Linked DNA regions of Homo sapiens: region 2 is linked to region 1. Evidence: fine-mapped expression QTL. Tissue or cell type: whole blood. Region 1 holds a variant in brackets; the other region holds the start of a gene. All regions are shown on one strand. Distances are between the middles of the regions.

The links. PIP is the estimated chance that this variant, and not a neighbour inherited with it, causes the effect.
Region 2: KAT2B starts here. The variant in region 1 is fine-mapped to the expression of KAT2B in whole blood (TOPMed, PIP 0.98).

Annotation. Positions count from the first base shown.
Region 1 is chr3:20,166,363-20,168,862 of GRCh38, reverse strand. It overlaps a transcript of SGO1 not described here. Among named protein-coding and RNA genes, the nearest start is that of SGO1-AS1, 6.7 kb to the left of the region's middle. The variant T/C (reference allele first, on the strand shown) is at 1,068.
Region 2 is chr3:20,039,279-20,042,027 of GRCh38, reverse strand. KAT2B (lysine acetyltransferase 2B) reads right to left here and starts at 1,582. Exons shown (of 18, transcript NM_003884.5): 1 at 1,248-1,582. The coding sequence starts at 1,550. RefSeq lists enhancers at 81-270, 987-1,957 and silencers at 1,121-1,180, 1,381-1,510, 1,681-2,320.

The DNA.
Region 1 (2,500 bases):
TCAAGGAGATCGAGACCATCCTGGCTAATACGGTGAAACCCCGTCTCTACTAAAAATAGAAAAAATTAGCCAGGCGCCTGTAGTCCCAGCTACTTGGGAGGCTGAGGCAGGAGAACGGCGTGAACCCGGGAGGCGGAGCTTGCAGTGAGCCGAGATGGTGCCACTGCACTCCAGCCTGGGTGACAGAGCGAGACTCCATCTCAAAAAAAAAAAAAAAACAGTTTCTCAGTCCATGTAACCACCTTTCAAATGATCAGTAGCCATATGTGGCTAGTGGTTACCATATTAGACAATTGAGGAAATATTGAACATTTCCATCATCACAGAAAGTACAGTTGGACTATGGGCCAAATCTAGCACACCACCTGCTTCTGGATGGTCTTCAACCTAAGAATAGTTTTTACGTTTTTAAATAGTTGAAAAAAAAAAAAAAAAGCAAACATTTGAAATCAATTTTAATGATAGAAGCACTAACTTTGAACTCCAGTAAAGTACCTACATTATATTCTTGAGTTTGCCTCTTGGCCTACAATCCTAAAATATTTACTTTCTGGTCTTTACCAAAAAAGTTTGCCAACTCCTGCTCTAGACCATTGAGTACTTTACTTTTGCCTTAAAGATCATTCTGGTCTGACACTCTGATCTAGCTTTGATCCTTACCTTCCCTTCATCCCCAAAGTCAATCATTATCCTAAAATCAGTGTTGAATTGTTTGTATTTTTAGTGTTCCTATAGTCTTGCTGTCATATTTGTTCATAGGCTTTTAAGTATTGTTTTATATCTTAACATTTTATAGGAATATTGTACACATCATTTTACAACTGACTTTTAACTCAATATTGTTTTTGAGATTTATCCGTGTTGGCAGATGTAGATTATTTTCATCATTGTACAGTTTATTATATAAATCAGACTTATTCATTTCTTCTTTTGAGACACAATTCATTTCCACTTTATTATTTACAAATTAGTGCTGCAGTGAATATTCTGCATCTTTGTACACTTAAAGTGCTTAACTTTCTATAAAGTTAATACCTAGAAGTGGAGTTGCTTGGTTGTAGAGTATA[T/C]TGAACTTTAACTTTACTATTAGTTAGGAAATTGCTTCCTACAGTGGTTCCACCAATTCTGTTATAAGGAGTATATCACTCTCCTAATAGCAGTTTCTAAGTTCCAGTAGCACCACACACTGTCGATCACTTAGTTTTATTAGACATTAAAATTAGCCAAGCCAGGAAGTATGAAATTATTTCTTTGTTTTAATTACTATGAACTTGTATCTGATTGATTTATTTATGAGAATTCAAGTGTTTATTATTCTCATTTCTTCCTTTATGAATTATTATATCTTTTGCCTGCTTTTCTAATAGAATGTAAAACTATGGATTTTTTATATAGTCTACACACTATTCCTTTTTTTCTGTTGACAAGTATTCTAAGTATCTTTCCTCAATCTCTGCCCTTTTTTATACCTTGCTTATAATTCCCTTTGATATTTAGGAGTTTTAAATATTAGTATCGTCTACCACCTTCTTCCTTAAGATTTTGTCTATAATTTGTACATTTTTGTTTTTCACTTTAAGGTCTTTAAACCATATGGCATTTATTTTGAGGACTAGGGATCTAATTTTATTTTTTCCCATGAGGATAACCAGTTGTCCCAGCACAATTCATTGACTAATGTCTTCTTTCCCCACTGCTGAATATTCCTAGCTTTGTCATAGAATGGGCTTCTTTGCATTGCTTTATTTGTTTAGCTTTATGCTGGGTATATTGTATAGTCACAATTTTTTTGTGTGTTGGTAGGGGTGGTAAATATACATAGAATTTATCATTTGATCTTTTTAAATTTTATTTTTGTTTTTTTATTCTCACTCTGTCACCCAGGCTGCAGTGCAGTGGCCAATCATAACTCACTGTAGCCTCAAACTCCTGGGTTCAAAGGATCCCCTTTACCTAGGACTACAAGCTTGCACCACTGCACCTGGCTAATTTTTTTTTTTTTTTTTTTTTTTTTTTTTTTGGTAGAGATGGGGACTGGCTATGTTTCCTAGGCCAGTCTTAAACTCCTGGCCTCAAGCAATCGTCCAATCTTACCTCCCAAAGTGCTAGGATTACAGGCATGAGCCACCACACCTGACCATTTTGATCATTTTATTTGTAAAGTTCAGTAGCATTAAGTACATTCACATGATTGTGCAACCATCACTACCCTTTTCCAGAACTACTTCTTCTTCCCAAACTAAAACTCTATACCCATTGAACAATCACTCTCTCTTCTCCCCTCTCTCCCAACCTCTGGTAACCACTACTTTTACTTTCTATCTCTATGAATTTGACTGTTCCAGGTACCTCACAGAAATGGAATCATAGGATATTTGTCCTTTGTGTCTGGCTTAGTTAGCATAATAATCGCAAGGTTCATCCATGTTATAGCATGTATCAAAATTTTATTCCTTTTTAAGGTTGAGTAACATCTCATTGTATGTATACATATTTTCTT
Region 2 (2,749 bases), 130 kb after region 1:
TCAACAAATATTTATTGAACCAGTGTAGGATACAGAGGTGCTTAACATAAACCTGAGCATATGGTGTGGAAAAAGAGCAAGCATAGACATTCCATTGTGACTGAGAAGCTCCTGCAAGTACCAAGAAGAGTATAACCTAGATGTTCTAGTAGAATAAATTATAGTTATGTCAAAATTCAGAAGTGGTCACTGCAGCTTGGTTGTGACAATCGGGAATCTGGAATCTGGGAACTTGACCCTCTTTACAGCAGGCAGGAAGAATACAGGGAGGTGTGAGTGTGTGTGAGTGTGTCTCTTCCCTGCCTCAGCCACAGGCCGCAGGAGCTGACAAGGCCAAGTCCCCGCCCCCCTCAGCTGTCACCCTGTCAAAACAAAGCCGCTGCTGACAGCGCAGGGCCAGCCTGCCCCGCGGCCTCGGGCAATCCTCCCACCTCGGGAACACAGCCTCCACATCTGGATCTGCAGCTGGAGGTGACAGGGTGCCTAAACTGGCATGGAGAGTGGGTAGCAAGAAATGGGTGTCCTCAAACTGAGCAGTAGCGCCCGCCGCGCTGGGCTGTCACTTTGCCAAATCCTGTTTACACCTCGAGCAGCTGGGACAGCGTTTTAACTAAACAAGTAATAATACAATAATGACAGGGCTGTCACCGCGCGCGGCAGTGCCTCCGCCCCCAGCCGAGGGCGCCAGGCACCACAAGACCCTCGCCTCGGACTCTGCCCACCTTCCCACCCCGCGCTTTCCTCCCCTTCGCTTTCCCAAAGCGCCAGGAGTCCGGGAGTCTTCTCCACCCCCACTCCTTGCACCCAGTTCCTCCCAGTGGGACACAGGAAGGGATCGATTGCAGAAGGGACCACTCAGTCCCCCAAAAGATTTTTCCTTGCCCCTGGGTCACCCGCCACATGGAGAGCACCGCTCCACTCCCGGGAAAGTGACTCCAGCGAGCTCCTACAGAGCAACAAAACCCCAAGGTAGCCCGGGAGCTCGGATGCCGAAGCTACTCCTTTCAAGCGGAAGGAATGAAGGGCTCTCCGTCTTAGTGATCCCCCTTCTTCAAACCCAGCAGGACTCTTATCCAAGAAGAAGCTAATTGGGCGCGGGCGACAAGAGCACTTCCGCGGTGCAGCGGCCCCAGGCGGGAGGCGAGAGGCAGGAGGCGGGAGGCGGAGGTGGAAGCGGGAGGGGGAGGGGGGTCCCGCGGGCTGGGCCCCTAGCACCCATCCGCGGTCCGAGAGCGGCGAGCGCGTACCTTGCAGGCGGAGTACACTCCGAGTTTCTCCAGTTTCTTGGCCCGCGGAGCGGAGCGTAGTTGCGCTTTCTTCACGGCGATTCGGGCCGAGCCACCGCCTCCCGGTCCTTCGGCCGTGCCCGCTGCAGCCACTGCCGTCGCCGGACCGCAGGCGCCCGAGCCCCCGGCGGCAGCGGCGCAGGGGGAGCCCTGCGGGGGCGCGGGCGGAAGCGCCGCAGGCTGCGGGGGCAGCGCCCCGGGCCCGGCCCCTGCCCCGGCTCCTGCCCCGCAGCCGCCCGGCCCGGCCCCGCCAGCCTCGGACATGCCGCCCCGGAGCACGGCAGGAGGCGCCGAGTGTCAGGCGCCGCCGCCGCCGCCAGGGTCTCCCTCTCGGGCTCTGGTAGTCGGGAGAGCGAGACCCTCCCCCCACGCCCTCCCGCCCCCTTCGCCCACCCCCCTCCCCGCCCCCGCCCTCCCCCTAGCGCGCCGCTCGCCCGGCTCGCTCTGGCCGGGCCCCGCGCGCTGATGGTGGTGGCGGCGGCGGCAGCGGCGGCAGCTGCTCCCCCAGGAGGGAGGGGACTAGCGGCTCCGCTGCCGCTGCCGCCGCCGCCACAGCACACGCCCTCCCTTGGTTCTCCTGCCCGGGACTCTGCTCCGCGCCCTGGCTGCGGACATGTTCCTCGGGACTGCGGACTAGGTGTGCGTGCCGGCGGCTGCCAGCCTCACGGTGTCTGCCAGCGCTGGGAGGCCCCCCACGGCCTCTTTTCCGCTGCCCGCGGGGTTTGCACCCCCCACCCCAGTGCTTCGACACCTACCGCTCGCCCGCCAGGGGGCGAGGCCAATCCCTGGGTGTGGGTGAGGGTGGGGACGAGGGTGGGGGTAGGGGCCTGGAGCCCAGGCACCTGCTGGCCACCTCCCCCCTCCGCGGCCCCCCATCCGACCCCCGCACGCCTGCACCAGTGGGAGGGGGCAGCCTCTCAATCATTTGTCCTTTCACTCTCTTCCACCCTGTCTCTGACAGAGAGACAACTTCCTCCACCCTAGCGGGAGCCAGAGGAAAAAAAATATATTTTTGAAAAGTACCCGTCCATGCTAATCTTTTTCTTTGTTGCTAATTCACCAAAATAAAGACGTGATGTTCTCCCTTTCTCTTTTTAAATACTTTCTGTCAAACTATTTTTTAATATAATTAACACTTTCTTCCCATAGCAATTTCTGGGTCAAATCTGCCGGAGGAGGGGAAAAAAACTTACTATTCTCTGTAATTTTTGTTTGAAAGTGCTGGTTGCTAAAAGAAAGATTGTCTAAAAAGCATTGTCAAAAACTATGCAGTGGAAAAAGTTTGAATACAAAAAGTTTGTTAACAGGATTCGTTTCTGGGTGGTGGTTCTATAACGTTACGTAGTTTTCAAAATTGTGCCACCGCGTGCGTATTAACCAGGAAAAAGATATAAGCATAATTCAAAAGAATAAATATCGATTTTGGCCTCAAACTTTAAAAAGAAAAAAAAAACCCTCAACTC